Linked DNA regions of Homo sapiens: all the other regions are reported to be linked to region 4. Evidence: microRNA targets listed by miRTarBase, many of them from high-throughput screens and not tested one by one. Region 4 holds a microRNA gene; each other region holds the end of a gene's coding sequence. Distances are from middle to middle.

Region 1 (4,000 bases), not on the chromosome of region 4:
CAGCCATCTACGGAGGCAGTGCCAGTTACTCTGCCTACAGCTGCAGCCAGCTGCCCACTTGCGGAGACCAAGTCTATTCTGTGCGCAGGCGGCAGAAGCCAAGTGACAGAGCTGACTCGCGGCGGAGCTGGCATGAAGAGAGCCCCTTTGAAAAGCAGTTTAAACGCAGAAGCTGCCAAATGGAATTTGGAGAGAGCATCATGTCAGAGAACAGGTCACGGGAAGAGCTGGGGAAAGTGGGCAGTCAGTCTAGCTTTTCGGGCAGCATGGAAATCATTGAGGTCTCCTGAGAAGAAAGACACTTGTGACTTCTATAGACAATTTTTTTTTCTTGTTCACAAAAAAATTCCCTGTAAATCTGAAATATATATATGTACATACATATATATTTTTGGAAAATGGAGCTATGGTGTAAAAGCAACAGGTGGATCAACCCAGTTGTTACTCTCTTAACATCTGCATTTGAGAGATCAGCTAATACTTCTCTCAACAAAAATGGAAGGGCAGATGCTAGAATCCCCCCTAGACGGAGGAAAACCATTTTATTCAGTGAATTACACATCCTCTTGTTCTTAAAAAAGCAAGTGTCTTTGGTGTTGGAGGACAAAATCCCCTACCATTTTCACGTTGTGCTACTAAGAGATCTCAAATATTAGTCTTTGTCCGGACCCTTCCATAGTACACCTTAGCGCTGAGACTGAGCCAGCTTGGGGGTCAGGTAGGTAGACCCTGTTAGGGACAGAGCCTAGTGGTAAATCCAAGAGAAATGATCCTATCCAAAGCTGATTCACAAACCCACGCTCACCTGACAGCCGAGGGACACGAGCATCACTCTGCTGGACGGACCATTAGGGGCCTTGCCAAGGTCTACCTTAGAGCAAACCCAGTACCTCAGACAGGAAAGTCGGGGCTTTGACCACTACCATATCTGGTAGCCCATTTTCTAGGCATTGTGAATAGGTAGGTAGCTAGTCACACTTTTCAGACCAATTCAAACTGTCTATGCACAAAATTCCCGTGGGCCTAGATGGAGATAATTTTTTTTTCTTCTCAGCTTTATGAAGAGAAGGGAAACTGTCTAGGATTCAGCTGAACCACCAGGAACCTGGCAACATCACGATTTAAGCTAAGGTTGGGAGGCTAACGAGTCTACCTCCCTCTTTGTAAATCAAAGAATTGTTTAAAATGGGATTGTCAATCCTTTAAATAAAGATGAACTTGGTTTCAAGCCAAATGTGAATTTATTTGGGTTGGTAGCAGAGCAGCAGCACCTTCAAATTCTCAGCCAAAGCAGATGTTTTTGCCCTTTCTGCTTCACTGCATGGATACAGTTGGTAAAATGTAATAATATGGCAGAATTTTATAGGAAACTTCCTAGGGAGGTAAATTATGGGAAGATTAAGAAAGGTACAAATTGCTGAGGAGAAGCAGGAAACCTGTTTCCTTAGTGGCTTTTATCCCCTCGGCATGCGATGGGGCTGATGTTTCTATGATTGCCTCAGACTTTCACATTTACTAGTAGGGCTGAGAGAGGCTTTAGTGAGGAAGGAATATTCAGAATAAAACGGTTGAGAAAGCTGAGAAGACCATTGAGTTTTGATCAGTTGTGAATAGAGTGCAAAGCCATGGCCAAGCTGTTTTTGGAAACGCTGGCCGGCGTGTCTTCAGTGGAAAAAGCAAATCAAAATGGAGCGAGAGCAAAGGGGCGTCCTCAGTCCTCAACCTACAATCACTGTATGGAATCGGTCCTGGCAGCTGAACATAGGAGGTCACTGGAACAAGTGATAGTGCAGATTGGCTTTCAAACATCCTCCTGGCTTGAGTTTTATCAGCTACAATGTGGGTCCTCTTTTGAAGCCTTAATTCACAACAGCAGCTTTTTGGGGGTGGGGCTGGGCGGGTGTTGTCATTGTTCTTTCCCTTCCTGTAAGTGTCGCTAGTTGCTGCCTCGTATCTCAGGTTTTTCTCTGTTTTTGAGAAATGGACAGTTTTTTGACCAGGATGTGACTTCATGTTTCCTATGGTGACTTCTAAAACCAGCACAGAATGATATGACTCAACACAGACCGACTTGGTTATGGGGATGATGAGCCGCACAGACCTCACTAGTTGTGCACAAATAATGTGCTATGATGGGGTGTAAAGTGAAGGCAGAAGAGGGTCAGCCGCATTGTTATGATACTGGGAAAGTGCTGGTCAACGATTTGAGTTAGTTTTTAGATATACATTGAAATCTTTAATCAGACATTCTCAAGTTTCACACAGTAGTTTTTGATGTTATGTACACACACACCAAATGTGTAACAGTTCACCACTTCCAGAGTGTGGTCATGCCCAAAACATGTTTAAGAAAGGAAAGCAGTAGCTCCTTGCTAACGATGTTTCAGGAGGTTTGGGGGACTTGGTTTTAATGAGCTTCTGTCATTTAGGGCTTCTCTTGGCCATGGTCCCCCTTCCTTCTGGAACTGTGATGTAGTCACATCCTACAGCCTTTAGTGCTGGTTCACTAGTGTCAGATAATCAGTTCTTGGAATCGAGACTGCCGTGGCGAAGGGGTGGCCTCGGAGGCAGGCTCTGGAGCTGCTTGGATGTCTTTAGGTGGGGTGGTGGCTGGCTCTCTTCAGCATGTAATTGGGGAAACCCTCGCGTCTACTAGGGGTGATACAGATGGTGATTTTAAAGAGCAAAACTAGACTTCTATGTGAGAAGTGCTGGAAAATGATTTAGGACATGTGTAAAGTTAGATGGAAAGACTGTAAATGTTTAATATGAATATAGTGTTCTTTTGAAGTAAGGCCAGCTGTTGAACGGTTAAACTGTGCATTTCTCATTTTGATGTGTCATGTATGTTAATGTATGAAATGATTAAATAAAATCAAAACTGGTACCTGTTTATACATAAATACGAGAAAAGACCTATCTTTGCAGCCATAAACTCGGTGGGAACACCACCACTCAAGTTGCCAAAGGAGGCAGTGGTGAAACCTGTCCTGTTCTCACTTAAATGAGGATTTAGCTCAAAATAAAGTGGTGGTGTCATCAGGTTTATTCCGTGTTCTGTCATTCACATGGAACACCGGATGATTAGCTAACAGTTTAGTGCCAGCCTTCATTCTTTACTGTGTACGTTAAATGCACACTACAGTGAAAAAGCCTAAGACACTTGGTAAATATTTTCTAGCTGACTGATTCCAGAACACACAAGTACATGGTAGGAAAAAAAAGGCCAGCTACACACACATGGCCCATTTCGATATAACATGTAAATGATGTTACGATTCCTACAGGAAAAACAGGAAGGGCAATTGTTGAAGAGCTGTCCTTTGTCCTTGCCACATACATCTCAACAACCTCTCTGCTCATGACACTAGATTTGATGACTTATGAGACTAGAAACTTAGTCTCATCAGTTTCATAAAAATTAGGCATTGAAGGAATAAAGCTTCAGTGCAAACAGATGGAATATTGACTACAGAAAGAATCACAGGTGACCTTGAAGTTGGTTGAGTTGAAGTTACATTTAAGAAAATTTATAAGAAAGATTGGGCCGGGTGAGCTAGACTAGAAGAGCTATCTTGGCCAGGACCCTGCAGAAAAAGAGGTGGAAGTGAGATAGAGGAATAAAGGGAATTAGAATAAATCAGCCTCCAGAGATAGAGGGTAACAGGAGGAACAGTTGTTTCAGTGAGAGGCTTCCAATGAGAAGATGCAGATCTTGGGAGAGCCTGAAGTTCAGGCCAGTTGCTGACAGTGCTCGGAGCCCCTTCATGACCAGCCTCAGCAGGCTATTGTTGGAGGACTGGTTTGGATGTGACAACTACAATTAGACCAGGAATTAAACTAAGAGGGGAGGCTGGGGGCGGTGGCTCACGCTTGTAATCCCAGCACTTTGGGAGGCCAAGGCAGGTGGATTACCTGAGGTCAGGAGTTTGAGACCAACCGGGCCTACCTGGTGAAATCCCTTCTCTACTAAAAATACAAAAATTAGCCAGGTGTGGGT
Region 2 (4,000 bases), 7.0 Mb from region 4:
GCCTCAGCCTCCTGAGTAGCTGGGATTACAGGCATCCGCCACCATGCCTGGTTCATCTTGTATTTTTAGTAGAGATGGGGGTTTCACCATGTTGGCCCAGGCTGGTCTCGAACTCCTGAACTGGTGATCTGTCCACCTTGGCCTCCCAAAGTGTTGGGATTACAGGCGTGAGCCACCGTGTCCAGCCAGGTAGCCTTTTTAAACTGGTAAGACTACAAGAGCCTTCTGATTTTGTACATATCCAAAAGATGTCTAGCTTTTAAATGTATTGCTAATGTATTCAGTTTAGTTTTTCTTTCAATCTCAAATGATAGGTGTGGTGTAATTAAAAAAAAAAAAAAAATAGGCCAAGCACGGTGGCTCATACCTGTAATCCCAGCACTTTGGGAGGCTGAGGTGGGTGGATCACCTGAAGTCGAGAGATCGAGACCAGCCTGACCAACATGGTGAAAACCCGTCTCTACTGAAAAAAAAAAAATTAGCCGGGCATGGTGGCGCATGCCTGTAATCCCAGCTACTCGAGAGGCTGAGGTATGAGAATCGCCTTAACCTGGGAGGTGGAGGTTGCAGTGAGCAGAGATCGTGCCATTGCACTCCAGCCTGGGCAACAAGAGTGAAACTGTCTAAAAACAAAACAAATAAAATGGATTTGGGTTTTTCTCCCTGGTTCCTTGCACACAGCTCCAAAAATCCTTGTAATTTCCAGAATGTCTTTTGTTATTCATTACAAGCCCCTTTTGATCTTACCAGTTTATGCTAATGAGATGACTACTGGCAGAGGGCCCCTAGATAGCTTCAAGATGGGCACGGGTCACTAGAGGAACCAGTTGTATTAAAGGGCTACAACTATTACCCCCACCCGAGACCTCCAGGGAGAAGAGGGGCTGGAGATTGAGCCCGGAGGCCAATAATTTAATGAGTCTAGGTTATAAAATGTCAGTAAGGGAGCTTCTGAGTTGAACACATCAACATGCTGGGAAAGTGGCATGCCAAGTGAGGGCAGAGAAACCTCTACTATTCTCCTCCACAACCCCCTCCATCCACCTTACTCTATGCATCTCTTCCATTTGGCTGTTCCTGAATTGTATACTTACTGTAGTCGTTAAGTATAGTGCTTTCCTGAGTTGTTTCAATGCATTATTGAACTTGGGGGGATGGGAAGGCCATAAGAACCCTAAATTTACGGTTGGCTGGGCAGAAGCGCGGGTAGCCTGTTGATCGCATTTGTGGCTGGTGTCTGAAGTGGGGGCAATTTTGTGGTACTGAGCACTTAACTTGCTCTAAATCTGGGTGGTGTCAGATTCAATTGTTGGACACCCAATTGATGTCTGAGAATTGCTGTTGAAACGGAGTAGAGATAGAAAAGCCTCTCATCGTTCTCAGTGCACTTGGGACTTATTTCTATGTGATCATCATTGCACACTCTACTGTCCAACTTGGTACCTCATACTGTAGACTTATCTTAAAACTCCAGTACAAATACAGTAGAACACTGGAGGACTAAATATCCAGTTTGCTTCAGTACTTGAAGCAAATATACATCAGTTGTTAACAGCTGTTTTATGTTCTACATAAAGTGCTTTCCAACTACAAAATGTTATTCAACATACAGTTTATCACCAGTAGATAGTTTTCCTCTACTTTTGCAATCAAATTTACTGGCATTCTGGGTACACTGATAGCTTCTATACCTTTTGGGAAAAGAAAAATGAACTATATCTGCATCTCAAATCTACCTCGAAAGGTCTTGACAAATGTGAAAACTCAAATAATTTTAACACTTTGATGTACCTTTGCCCTTGATCTTTACCTTGTGGTCAGAACTCTTGTTTTAAAATCCTTGTTTCATACCTTAGCTTAAGGGCATAGTATGCGCTATTTTCAGCATTCAAAATTCACCAGATACTAACTAGTAATTTACATATTTGAGACCACTATCTGTTAGGGTTTTTTTTCTTAAACAACTCAGGAACATTGGCATCCTAAGGCAAACTGAAAATTCACTGGGATATAATTTAATTATATTATTGGTATTTTCCAATTTCAAATAAAAACTATACTGTTAAATAAGCTTTGCAGTAGATACCCAACTACCAAACAGTACACACTTGGAAGTGTTCATACCCTTATTTTGATCTTAAAAACGTGGCCCCCTTAATACAATGGTTGGCTCTATCTCCAGATTTATATCTAAATCTGACTTCTCCAATGCTGGGAAGCCACTCTCTTCAGCGTATTTTTGTAAATGTGATACCATTTAACGTCACGATTACCAAAGGGGGCTAATCGCATTGGTCTTTTACATTTGACACAGTTAAGTGGAGAATTCCTGCTATTGTGCCTACCATGTAAGAACTATTAGCATAAAGAATATGAACTACTTCCATGCTTTTGAGCTGATTTTGGGGGGTTGGAGGTGTGATGGAAAATTTATCACAATTCATGCATCAGTCATGTTAACACGGGTAAAGACACATGAGGAACTATCTCTGCCCAGATATAAACTTTCACGCTGGTAATTTTTTAAAAAAGAGTCATGAACACATAATTTTAAAGTTTACTTAAAAAATGTAAAGAACTCCCAATATTTAACAGGTAAAAAAAATAGCATATTGGTCTATGGGTTTGTTATATTTTATTTTCCAAGTAATACTGATTAAAAATATTTACACACCTACTTTTAAGTCCACAGTTTAGCACTCTTATTTGTATGGCTTTAAAAGTTATAGCACAAGATCTTTACATTAAGAATTGGGGGAAAAGATTCCATTCAAAACAAAGCCTGATAATTATATACATGTCTTTCTCTGTACTTTATTTTAAATACATTAATTTTTAAATGCTGCTCATCTTTTTCTCATCTGGTGGTAAAATACTAGTGCAACTTTTCATCAAAATAAAGTTTACCACAGATGTAAATAAATTTTCCCAATTGAAAATGGCCCTTCAGTGGCCATTAAATAAAATTTCTCAACCTAACTTAAGTGAAAAAGAACTGGTGGTTGTCATTATAACCAAAAATATAAAGTATTATAGCATCATCTACATTGCTCCTTACAACACAAACTTTGAAAGAACCAGAGATGCTTTATAGAAGTTCAGTTGGTTTTGAGAAGGCACATGGGTGTGGATTTTTTTTTTTTTTTAACATTCTAGAAATTTTGCCACCACCACTCTTTCTGTTGCAAAGATGGCATCTGTGACTACTGGGGTAGACAAGAACGTTTGTTCAAACTAAAGAAAGCCAGAAGCCAAAATTTAACTGCACAGTAACAATGCACTTTTCATCATGCAGCCTTGTGTTTCCTATATTATTCAATTTTCTAACATGCATTAGAATACATAAACTTGTATTCTAATGATTTAAGTTTGATTTTACAATATGGAAAAAATTTGAGGAAGAACATGACCTGGGAAAGAGAAAAGGAAGAACTTTTACCACAATGAAAATAGATACATTCGTACCCAACTATATAATAAGAATATAATCCATTTAAGTTTCCAGAAATATACTTCTCAAAACTCCCCTTCAGTTATGGAAAAGATCCCTCCTCTGTGGCAATAAGTAGGGGGAGGGGAATCAATGTGTTTCAACGGACAACAGTTCAGCACAACAGGAAACAGCTTAACTTTGGTCCACTTGTCTGTTAGGCTTAATTAAGGACAGTCAAACTGCCCATAATCAGTTCAAAAACCCAACAAGTAAATTTAAAAATATATTCATGTGTAATTTCATTCTAAAACTGGCAGAGCTGTTCTGTCCTCATTCTCTGCCTTTTCTGCTTCAGAATCCACTGTTGGCTTGGTCTCTAAATCCTCAGCATCTTCGTGATCTTCCCTGGCAGCCTCAGCAGCATCTGCTTGGCTAGACTCTCTCTCCTCTTGGTTCATGATTTCTGGGGTCACGTGGTCCAAATCTGCTTCTAGAAGTTCAGTTTGTACTTCCACTGGCATTTGATTGACCCGTTCAACATGCAGCTCCTCTACATGTACTTCAGTA
Region 3 (4,000 bases), not on the chromosome of region 4:
TTTAACAGGTGCTGAAGTGTTAGTTCTCTCCTCTCCTGCTGTGTAAAGCTGGGGTGGAGTATTTTGATTTGTATTAAATTAATAGTTTATAGGCTGGGTATGGTGGCTTACACCTCTAATCCCAGCACTTTGGGAAGACCAGATGGGAGAACTGCTTCAGCCCAGGAGTTTGAGACCAGCCTGGGCAACATAATGAGACTGTTTCTACAAAAAAATAAAATTAGCTTGGCATGGCGGTGTGCACCTGTAGTCCCAGCAATCGGAGGAGCTGAGATGGGAGGATCCCTTGGGCCCAGGAAGTTGACACTGTGGTGAGCAGTGCTCACGCCACTACACTCCAGCCTGGGTGACAGAGTGAGACCCTGTCCCAAAATTAATTAATAGCTTATAAATTGAAATGAGCAGGTGCTAGGAAAATTTGTAGAGCTTTTGTCAACTGTGCAAATATGGGGTAAGTCTACAAAGGATGTTTTTTTTTTTTTCTTATTGAGTTTGGTAAATTTTCAGCATCATTACTGTGTAATGGCATCATATCAAAATTTGAACAATGTTATAGATTCATACAAAGGTCTACAATTAGGTTGAGAAGAAAAATAATACTACTAATTTTGCATCTTATGGGTTTTTCTATGAAGCCACACAGGCTAATAAATCAAGATTTTTGGTTATAAAATATACAAGTATAATTAGTCAATAGTTTCTGATCATTAAGCAAAATTTAAGGCAATATTACATTTAAAAATTATATATTCAAAAGTTTAAAAATAATTAGGTGCTTGTATTGTAAAAGTGATTTATTCCTGTTAACATTAAAAAAATTGATCCAGTACTTTTACTTTTTTTTTTGAGATGGAGTCTCACTCTGTTGCCAGGCTGTAGTGCAATGGCGTGATTTTGGCTCACTGCAACCTCTGCCTCCCGGTTCAAGTGATTCTCCTGCCTCAGCCTCCCGAGTAGCTGGGATTACAGGCGCCTGCTACCATGCCCGGCTAATTTTGTATTTTTAGTAGAGACGGGGTTTCACCATATTGGCCAGGCTGGTCTTGAACTCCTGACCTCAGGTGATCCGCCCACCTCGGCCTCCCAAAGTGCTGGGATTACAGGGGTGAGCCACTGCGCCCAGCTGATCCAGTACTGTTATGCTTTTGAGACAGGGTCTTGCTCTGTCACCCAGGCTGGGAATGCAATGGTGCAGGTCACTGCAACCTTGAACACCTGGGCTCAGCCTCCTGCGTCGCTAGGACTACAGGGATGCGCTTTTTTTTGACTTTTAGTAGACATGAGGTCTCACCATGTTATCCAGGCTGGTCTTGAACTCCTGAGCTCAAGCGATCCTCCCACCTCAGCTTCCCAGAGTGTTGGAATTATAGGAGTGAGCCATTGTGCCTGGCCTTACTCCTCCTTACACTTTTTTTTTTTTTTTTTTTTTTTTTGTAGGGACGAGGTCTCACTATGTTACCCAGGCTGTCTCAAACTCCTGGGCTTAAGCCACTCTGCCTCAGCCTCCCAAAGTATTGGGATTACAAGTATGAGGCACTGTGCCTGGCCACTTTATAAGAAATTAATTGACATAAAATTTATTATCAGTTACAAAGATACAAAAATGTGTTTTAGGATATTGGTAATTTTCCCTAAAGAAAAGACTAACAATGTAATTTAATATTTGATACACAGGAAAGTTTTTGAAATTTTAAGCATCTGTGTTAAATAAATGAATGGAAGAAAGAGAGAAAGACAAATTAAGTACATCTAAATCTCTCTAATAATTTCTTAATAGGAAAACCTCTTCATAAATACAGGATATATCTATCTAGATATCTATACATACATACAAACGCATATATACTTTAATAGTTTTCTCATGTTATACTTGTAGAAGTGCAGTTTTCTTCCTTTCCCTTGTGTCATTATAGAGAACAGTAGCCACCTTGTTTCCATTTACTTTCAGTAACCATTACCATGGTATATATAAGTTCATAATAACCTCATATTAAATGTGGTGATCGGTGAGAAAAAAATATTTAAACGTAAAGGATATAAGATAAGAGATCACATTTGCCTTGACAGGATGGAGGTTAAAACAACAAAGTTCCAGCTTACTTTATAATCTATTTTATTACCATTAATATAAAAGTAAACAAATAGAATTTTGTCAGTGCACGCAAATAAGAGACATTCAGAAGTCAAGAAGTGTAATTTTAAGACTGCAAAAATTAATGCTATGCCCCTTAATAACAGAACTCTCCAGGCTTATTTTCATGATTCACGCTGTCTACCACAGGCCCTCCTAACTCCAGTGGAGAAGGAGTTTGGGGGTTCTCCAAAAACTTGCAAATTTACATATTAAAACTACTTGACCACAACTACCTTTTTGTAACTGACTGCTTTCAAGTTCTTTGTGTTTAATTCCATCAAAAACTGCATTATAAAACTGGTAAGGTTATTGACAAAGAAACAAGAACAAACTTCCATATTGCAGTTGACTACATTATATAATTTCAAATAAAATAAAATCAATTCATAAAACAAATTTAGTGGTGTGGTTTGGGAAATCTTTAAAATGACGTATTTTTAACTATCATAGTTATTATCATAATTAATTATCAGAGTTATGTTACTTTTCCCTCAAAACAGGCCACAGGCTTATTTTTATTTATTTATTTATTTATTGAGACAGAGTCTCACTTTGCCACTCAGGCTGGAGTGCAGTGGCGCGATCTCGGCTCACTGCAAGCTCTGCCTCCCGGGTTCACACCATTCTCCTGCCTCAGCCTCCTGAGTAGCTGGGACTACAGGCACCCACCACCACGCCTGGCTAATTTTTTGTATTTTTTAGTAGAGACAGGGTTTCACCCTGTTAGCCAGATGGTCTTGATCTCCTGACTTCGTGATCTGCCCACCTCGGCCTCCCAAAGTGCTAGGATTACAGGTGTGAGCCACTGCGCCTGGCCTATTTAAGTAAACCATCTAGAGACCATGGATCTAGCAAACTCATGTCTAACACAGTTGGAACCTAAAACTCAGGTATATAAAGATATTTCAAAGATTTATATACACATAATTCCTAAGAAAGGCCTTATGTAAGAACATACTTACTCTGATTTTAAAAGTCTTACAAGTATCTGTAACACAGTTTAGAACCTTAACAAAAACTAAAATGTTTCCCAGGCTTTAGAGTTTTCAGAAAGTGCATATTAATTCATAGCAAAGGCACCAGGCTCTCCCTCAGGCATGTTATCTTTTATTTTACACAAAATTCCCATGAACTTGGTTGTGTGGATTCTTAACCTGCAGTGAATTACCTAAGAAAGTGAACTGGCTGAGGCAGGCACATTACCAACCAACCTGACAGTAAGTTCAGGTGACAGAAAAGGTATGAGACATAGGTTTGAAAATGGCAAATTGGGGTCATTTAGTGAAGTGGTAAATACTCTTTATTAGCCCCTGGAGACATCAATATATGTGGGTACAATATAATAGGTGAAATTAATGATGATGTTCATTAATGCTTTAAAAAACATTAAAAATATTAAGTATCTTGTTTTAAAAGTAGAGAAATATTTTTAAAGAACTATTTCTATTTCAAATAGTTACAATGAAGTAAGTTTTAGTGCTTAAAAAGATAAGCTTTGATTATGTGGATAATCCATTTGTGTGGACATCTCATTTATTTTCCAATAATGTAGGATAAGATGAGGCGTATCAAAGTAACTCAAAATCAATGGACTAATCAATTTATGTATAATGATATGGTTCATCAGAATAAATGTCATGAATTTAAAAATCACCACCAATTCCTTTATTTTCTATATTATATTCTTTTAAAGTTCCCTTTTCTCCTGTACTTGAGTATGCTATAAAATCATGAACTTTTTCTTTTAGAATATCCAGTTCATTTTGCATCTTTAATATGCTATTATCATACTGAATTCCTTCAAGGGTTTTCTGCATCTCCATTATTTCAGACACTGCTTTCAGCATATCATCTTCCATATTAAAC
Region 4 (4,152 bases):
TGCCTGTTTCTTCCCACTAGACTTTTTAAGGGCAGGGACTTTGCTTGGATTTTTCTATCTCCAGCCCCTTGAACAGAGCTCACCATATAGTAGGCGTTCAGTAAATATTTGCTAAATGAATGAATGGTGCTTGGAACTAAGTAGATCTTTAATTCATTGTAATTTAATGCTCTAAGATAGGCAGCTTGGGGCAAGAACAAACGGATTCTAATTTACTCTATGTTTTCCACTTTTCCCATGTAGAGTACAGTCATATATTACCCTTAAATCAAGTAATAGTAGTATAATCTGTAATGTAAAAAGTTTGCGTTAAATTCTTTATTAAACATGACTAAGCATTCTGTCCTGATATATCTAAAAGAAATGGGAGAAAGTTTCTAATTTGTTCCCTGTGAAGACTGAACAAAATAAATCATTAAGCAATTTAAATTGCATTAAGAAACTATGTCTAGATTAGAGAAGAGACATGTAATTATGATCCAGGCTCTGTAGTAAAGATGCCTCTATTTGAATCCCAGCTTTACCATTCACCAGCTCTGTTAACTTGGACAAGTTACTTAACCTCTCTGCACTGTTTTTTTTCTGTTAAGCAAGGAAACGAACAGCCCTTTCTTACTAGGTTGTGAGGTCTAATTTGATAAAGCTTGGCAGGTACTAGTATTAATACAATGCTTAAAATTTAGTGAACACATTCTAAATGTTAGCTATTCGTTTTTTGAAATTATTTTATTATTAGGAAGGACTTTACAGATTATTCTCTATCAAAATGTCTTGCAATTTCTATGTATGAAATCTTTAAGAATTCAGTAAAATTTTAGTTCTTTTTTCTTATATGCTTACATGATTGCTACCTCTTCTCTTCATGCCTTGCAAAAGGTAAAGCAGGACAGTATGCCACTGTCCTCAGGGGCTTGTCACATTTTGGAATTCAGGTTACCTGGTTGGTTCGCCAACTCAGCTCTTAGGTACCTTTAAAAAATATTATGATGGTTTTTTTTTTTTTTTCATTTTTCGAGTGGGAGTAATAGTCTCTTGCAGTAGTCTGTGTCCTAAACTGAACTCTCTCATACCTGAAATCTTTAAATATGTGAATAACGATTATGTTTGGAAGATTTAAATTTAATTATTGGTGGAAAATTGTTGACTTAATCATTCACTTCTAATTCTGGTTCTTTTGATTTTTCATAATTAGGATTTTGAGTTGTCTCCTGGTTTTTATTATTTTGCACATATCTGAGTAAAAATACAGATATGTGAAGTTAGATAAAATTTCCAATTGGAACCTAATGATTCATCAGACTCAGATATTTAAGTTAACAGTATTTGAGAATGATGAATCATTAGGTTCCGGTCAGAAATTTTTCATTCAGTTTCAGAATCTTTGGTTTTGACAAAATTGTTGTCAGTGTTTTGTTTGTGTTCTGATCACTTGGTACCCATTCTCTCTCTCTCTCTCTCAAAACATTTGGAATTCTTCAAACTACAAAATTATCTTAACCTCTGAAGTTCCATCAAAGGGTATTTGGCCTGAAAAACTATTATCAGCCGTAAAGTACTCAGGAAACAGTACTTTAGTCAGTAACATTAGTCAGTAACATTAACACGCTAATTGTGAAACCATTATAAAGGCATTTGAAAGTAATATTGAATAATATTTTGATGATTGGAAAAAGATTGAATTGGATTTTAAATGTTTAAGACTTTCAGAACTGGTGTTTTGAAGGGTACGATATGCCCACACATCGGGCACTAAAATCTGGTAGTTTTAATGAATTGCCATTTTGATTTCGAGTATAATCAAGTTTTGCTACTGTGGTGCTTAATCACATGGAACTGAATTTTTATTTACCTCCCCATTTTAGTATCACCATCATCATCATTATCATCATTATCATCCCCTTTCTTCTCCTTCTTCCCTAAACCTTGCAACTCATCACTTGAATGTTGGCACAAGGTTAAAGATATGGACTTTGAAACTATTATTTTCTCAAGTTAGGAAAACCCCAATTTTTATCTCCAGTTTCATGGGATCACTGGTCCTAATCTGTGTCATAATAAGGCAATATAGTTCGGCCTCAACAGAAATAGATGGTATGGTAAACAGAATAATAAACCCCTAAGAATGTCTATGCTCTTATCTCTGGAACCAGTAAAAATGATGAAATTATTCAGGCAGGCCCAGTGTAATCAGATAAGCCCTGTAAAACAAATTTCAAGTGTGAGAAGAATTTGACAAGCCATTGCTGCTTCTAAAATATTCAGGACCACAGACACACACACACACACACACACACACACACACACACACACTCACACACACACACACACACGCAGAGAGAGAAGTGAGTGAGGAGATAGATATGTTAATTTGTTTGACTATGGTGATTATTTCACTGTATATGTACAGTATATCAAAACATCACTGTTGTGCACTTTAAATATATACAATTTAAAAACATATACAGAGCCACATGCAAAGACTGGGGAGAGGCCTCTAGAGCTAAGGTTAAATGCCAGCTGTCAGTTTGCAGGGGAACAGGGATCTCAGTCCTATAACCATAAAGAACTGAGTTTTGGCTTGGCTAGGTGGATCATGCCTGAAATCTCAGTGCTTTGGGAGGCCAAGGTGAGAGGATCACTTGCAGCCAGGTATTTGAGTCCAGCCTGGGCAACATAGCAAGACCCTGTCTCTACAAAAAAAATTTTTTTTTAAAATTAGCCAGGCGTGGTGGTGTGCACCTATAGTCCTAGCTATCTGGAAGCTGAGGTGGGAGGATCAGTTGAGCCCAGGAGCTCAAGGTTATGTTGAGCCATGATCATGCCACTGCCCTCCGGCCTGGGCGACAGTGTGAGACCCTGCCAGTAGCCTGAATGAGATTAGAAATGGATTCTTCTTCAGAGAAAGATGCAAACCTGCTGACACCTTGATTTTAAACTTGTGTGACCCTAAGCAGAGAACTAAGTTGAACTATGCTATGTTTGAACTTCTGACCTACAGAAGCTATAAGATATTAATACTAAATGGATGTTGTTTAAAGTCACTAAGTTTGTAGTAATTTGTTACAGCAGTGGTAAGATACTAACACATGAAGTGTGGGAAGGTATGTAACCAAATCATTTATTACTAGAATAAAGGATCCATAATTCTATTTCTTCATCTACAACCCTTTAAAGTGCTGACTATGAATCAGACTGAAAAACAGAGTGCCATAGTAAAAAAATTAATAGCTAGTGTCAGGTTTATAACTGATTTTGTTGTTTGCTTATTATGCCCATAATCTTACCACCTAAAGACTATTGATGTTTTAATATATTTCATTGTTACCTTACTCTTTTTTATGCTTATGTAAAAATATGTGCCAAATTTTCAATTGCTGTTAGGGTAATTTTCTGATGTTATTAAATAATCTTAACAAACATTATTTCTTATACTACAATAATATTTCATCATTTGGCTCTGCCATGCTTTATTTAGCATTTCTTTGGTAATCTCTAATATTTAGTCTTTTTTTTGTATGATTGTCATATTCCTTGCACTGGACAATTTCAGGTCTAGTTCAAGTCATAAAAGGATTTTCAGTTAATTATGTTATATTTAAACTCACATCAATTGGGTTTTTTTAAAGAAAAAAAACCCTAGATCTCGAAGATGGTTTTGTTATCAGCACATTCTGCATTGAGCTTTCAGCCAACTACTTAATCTATGCTTAGCTTAAAAATAAGATTTGGCTGGGCGCTGTGGCGCATGCCTGTAATTGCAGCACTTTGGGAGCTGAGGCAGGTGGATCACTTGAGCTCAGGAGTTCGAGACCAGCCCAGGCAACATGGCAAAACCTTGTCTATTTTTTAAAACATAAGATTTGACTTTGTTGTGGTATAAGTTGTTTCATAGAATATGAAATTTGAAAATTTGAGTAGTATTTGGTAATGTTCAGAGTTTTAAGCCTTTTGAGTTGTAATAAGTATTTGTTAAATCAGTTTACCATTACACGAGTTTTACATTGCCTTTGAAGTCGTCAGTAATAGAAAAATAGTGTATGTACTAAACTACACAGTATTTTTTATTATTTCAACAAATATTTCTTGATACTACTGTATGCCAGGTACTAACTACATCAGACAACTGGAATATAGTATGGAATAAAATAGTCA
Region 5 (4,000 bases), not on the chromosome of region 4:
ACCTCAGTTCAAGCCCTGAAGCCTGGGGCCAGCTGGGACTTGAAGGGAGCACGAGTCCAGGATGGACTCAGTGCAGAGCAGGACATGATGCCATCGAAATTGGAAGGTTCCCTGGTGCTGCCTCACACTCCTGAGATCCAGACCACGAGAAGTGACCTTCAGGGTCATCAGGCTGTCCCAGAGAGGTCCGCGTTCTCCCCACCCCGACGGAATTTCTCTCCCATTGTTGACACGGACTCCCTGGCAGCTCAAGGGCATGTCTTAACGAAGATCAGCAAAGAAAACACCAGGCACCCTCTGCCACTTAGACATAATCCATTCCACTCATTATTCCAGCAAACACTTACTGACAAATCGGGTCCTGAGTTGAAAACACCATTTGTCAAAGAGGCCTTTGAAGAGACCCCTAAGAAACACAGAGAGTGTTTAGTTAAGGACAACCAGAAGTACACATTTACAATAGATAGATGTGCAAAAGACCTTTTTGTAGCCAAACAAGTTGGAACAAAACTCTCGGTGAATGAACCACTGTCATTTTCTGTTGAGTCTATTCTTAAGAGGCCTTCATCTGCCATCACTCGTGTCTCTCAGTGAAAGGCTGCTTAAACAGAAAGCTGGATTTTCTGCAGTCTTAGAGCATTATAGCCATTTGCTACTTTTTTTAAAAGTTAAGATGTTTGTGTAAAGAAATTTCTAATGTAAAGATGATGATTTTGAAAAATTTTATATATTCCTAATATGCATGTACTTTTTCTTATCACATATATTTAAACTTACAGATGGAAATTGCCCAATGTGCAAATTGTTAAGTACCACACTTTACACAGCATTTCAAAAAGCAATAAAATTGACACTGTCTTCTCAAAGACCCAATATTTGCCGAAGCAAATAGCTGTCTCTGTCTAGATGAAGAAGCTATTTTTCTATGATTCTGTATATTTGTATATTTTGAAGTACTCTTAATGGTCACTGGGGGCCACAGGAAAACCTTTATAATACTTTAGTTTTGCATTGTGGAGGGCACATAAATTTAATTATTCGAGACTGTTTGAGGCAAAAATCACTTTAAGGAGAACATAGGGCCATTTGCATGTTTACAGTATCTTCATTTCACGTGATTGGACAAAGCTGAATTAATTGGAAGGGAAATCAAGTGTAATGTCTCTTTTACATTACATTAGATGGTTTGGGTTCTTGGAATAGATTTCTTCTGACTCCCTGGGTCCCAGTTTCTTTCCCTGGCGAGGATGTTTATGTGGGGCCCTAAGCTTCCTTTCTAGAAACATTTCTAGTTTCTTTGAACAGTCTATGATTTTAGGTTGCTAGGAGCCACAAATCAGGTTTCCTTTTAAGATGTGGTCAGTACTGATGGGGCCCAAACCTCCTCTCAGCTCTTGTGTGAGTCCACTGTTTCTGAATCACTGGTGACAGCAGGCATTTGGATGCAGGCCCAGTCACAACTCTCATCCGGTCCCCAAGTATCAGCTTTATGCCTCCCACATTTGCACCACTGTCAAAGGCCTTCAGTGTAACTCTCTTCTGACACAAAAACGTTTAGTATTCAGATTGCTTCAGCTGACAGTTGCTGAAGCTTGCAGATGTTTATCACAGCATGAGGGTGGCTTCTTAATTCTTACACCTTTTCTCCCCCCACCCCCCCTTTTTTTTGAGACAAGGTCTCACTCTGTCGGCAAGGCTGGAGTGCAGTGGTGTGATCATGGCTCACTGTAGCCTCGACCTCCCCAGGCTCAAGTGCATGCCTGTAGTCCCAGCTACTCAAGGGGCTCCACCTCCCAGGCTCCACCTCAGCCTCTTGAGTAGCTTGGACTACAGGCATGCACCACCATGCTTGGCCAATTTCTAAATTTATTATTATTTTTGGAATATGTGCAGAGGTAAGTTTTTAAAAATTTTGGTAGAAACAGGGTCTCCCTATGCTTCCCAGGCTTGTCTTGAACACCTGGTCTCAAATGATCCTCGTGCCTTGGCCTCCCAAAGTGCTGGGATTACAAGCATGAGCCACCACACCCACCATTTCTCCCATTTTTAAGTTCTTGTTAATCTCTTGTTTTACTCAGTAAAATGTTAGCTGTTGTTCCATATAATTGATAAAATAAGAGTAAGACTTTTATGAGAGTACTAAGTTCATCTCTTAAGACCTCACCTGTGGACCCCAAGTGAAGTTTAAGGTGTCATAGTCATTCTAATACAAAAAATCAAGAGTCACGTATCTCACTTTTAATACCGCCACAGAGGGAGGTTTTACGTCAAATTCTGCTACTGTCTTCTGGGTAACAAGAACATGAGGTGGGTATGTGGAAGATGCCAAGTGATTCAGCAGTGTGAAAACACTTTGAATTACTTAGAAATGATTTTGCTACTAATGACCTCATGTAAACCTCCTGGGATTCTCTGAATTGTTGCTTAAAATTAGCATCAATTTCAAAAAACAACAAGCCAAACCTTGGGTTGACTTTCAGTTTGTACTTGTAAAATAATACTTGGTTTTATTGAGTCAAATTTAGTTATTTGTATTATTGCAAAAGTCAGAGTGAATGGACGTTTGCCAGAGGCAAAGGATTTGAAAACAGGCAGAGATTCCAATAACTTTTAAAGATTATCATTAAGCGGAAAAATGTTTTCCAGCCAAGTGTGCCCTGATGTCAGAGACAGAATCTAACTCCAGTTTTCCCTCCCAGTCGTCTCTGCTTTGTCTATAATCACTAATTTTTGTCTTTCTATTGGAAATTTACTTTTTTGTTTCAAGTGTTAAATGTATCCTTAGCATTTAATTAAACTGCTTCAAAGGTAATGAGGGGGAACGTATTAGAATAAAAGCACATAAAAAATCTCAGTGAGAGGTCTTCTCATCTAAACATGAATTTTATCTCTTGCTTGCTCCACTTTTGTGTTTTGAATACTTATATTTGTTAAGATGTTTCTCTTTTGTATTCAGTGAACACATGGGGACTTCTTTTCGGTCCTCTCTCTCTGTATCATTTTAATCCCATTATGTGAATCCAGTTGGCTGTGGGTATTAGTGGTTTTTCTCACATTACCAGTGACCAGAATTTTATTGTTCTTGAACATTTATGAGGGTCACTACTTCCCCTGGCAAACTTATTATTATACTATGAATTAGTTCTGCTGTAATGAGTTCTTTGAATTTTAAAACTACCAAAGGCCGGGCGCGGTGGCTCACGCCTGTAATCCCAGCACTTTGGGAGGCCGAGGCAAGCGGATCACGAGGTCAGGAGATCGAGACCATCCTGGCTAACAAGGTGAAACCCCGTCTCTACTAAAAATACAAATAATTAGCCGGGCGCGGTGGCGGGGGCCTGTAGTCTCAGCTACTCGGGAGGCTGAGGCAGGAGAATGGCGTGAACCCGGGAGGCGGAGCTTGCAGGGAGCCGAGATCGCGCCTCTGCACTCCAGCCTGGGCGAGAGAGCGAGACTCCGTCTCAAAAAAACAAACAAACAAACAAACAAAAAAAACTACCAAATCTACCGTCAGCCACTTGTTAAGAGCTTTGTGCTTGGCTCTTTGCTTTTGAAAATCATTTCACTTCCATGAACGTGTCATATAGAATCTTCAGAAAACACTGCCATTGACATTAAATCAAACTTGGGATTCGATTTAAGCATTTTCTCTATCGAAGGCAATAAATGGATACAGTTTTAATAGTTTTCGAGAATGTAAAGGATAGTAAAACGTGGACATTTTTCTCAATTTAACTCACAATACAATAATACAACTCTAATGACATGTTATCCTTCCATCTCAACCCATCAAGCATGATCGTTAGCTGAATTTGCAGTTCTCGAAAGTTTACAACAGTGCTTCTCAAACTAATGGACAATTGAACCACCTGAGAATCCCGATGCTGCTGGGCTTCAGGCCACACTTTGAGTAACAATGCTTGCAGCATTTCTGGTATTTCAACGCACATTTAATATTATCTGCTGTGGATTTTGAGTTGTAATGCAATCATCATAATAT

Evidence for each region. The annotated mature microRNA hsa-miR-580-3p reads UUGAGAAUGAUGAAUCAUUAGG and lies in region 4 at 1,324-1,345, shown strand. An mRNA with a match to its seed (bases 2 to 7 or 8) in the 3' UTR can be bound and repressed. Matches are read on the target gene's strand: a 7mer-m8 pairs with bases 2 to 8, a 7mer-A1 pairs with bases 2 to 7 and ends in A, and an 8mer does both.
Region 1: miRTarBase lists DUSP16 as a target of hsa-miR-580-3p. Seed matches in the 3' UTR shown: 7mer-m8 at 1,278-1,284 and 8mer at 2,247-2,254.
Region 2: the mRNA of ZNF131 is a reported target of hsa-miR-580-3p. Seed matches in the 3' UTR shown: 7mer-A1 at 3,109-3,115.
Region 3: miRTarBase lists IKBIP as a target of hsa-miR-580-3p. The part of its 3' UTR that is shown has no 7-base or 8-base seed match.
Region 5: miRTarBase lists DMRT2 as a target of hsa-miR-580-3p. Seed matches in the 3' UTR shown: 7mer-A1 at 859-865.

What each region holds. Positions count from the first base shown.
Region 1 is chr12:12,473,123-12,477,122 of GRCh38, reverse strand. DUSP16 (dual specificity phosphatase 16) reads left to right here. Exons shown (of 7, transcript NM_030640.3): 7 at 1-3,841. The coding sequence ends at 290. Among named protein-coding and RNA genes, the nearest start is that of DUSP16, 88 kb to the left of the region's middle.
Region 2 is chr5:43,174,866-43,178,865 of GRCh38, reverse strand. It overlaps ZNF131 (zinc finger protein 131), which reads right to left. Exons shown (of 7, transcript NM_001330707.2): 7 at 2,544-4,000. The coding sequence ends at 3,733. Among named protein-coding and RNA genes, the nearest start is that of NIM1K, 15 kb to the left of the region's middle.
Region 3 is chr12:98,622,153-98,626,152 of GRCh38, forward strand. It overlaps IKBIP (IKBKB interacting protein), which reads right to left. Exons shown (of 3, transcript NM_153687.4): 3 at 2,097-4,000. The coding sequence ends at 3,778. Among named protein-coding and RNA genes, the nearest start is that of IKBIP, 21 kb to the right of the region's middle.
Region 4 is chr5:36,145,100-36,149,251 of GRCh38, reverse strand. It overlaps MIR580 (microRNA 580), which reads left to right and starts at 1,264; the gene lies at 1,264-1,360. The region is part of intron 1 of LMBRD2 (LMBR1 domain containing 2); the gene reads left to right.
Region 5 is chr9:1,056,680-1,060,679 of GRCh38, forward strand. It overlaps DMRT2 (doublesex and mab-3 related transcription factor 2), which reads left to right. Exons shown (of 4, transcript NM_181872.6): 4 at 1-873. The coding sequence ends at 594. Among named protein-coding and RNA genes, the nearest start is that of DMRT2, 8.3 kb to the left of the region's middle.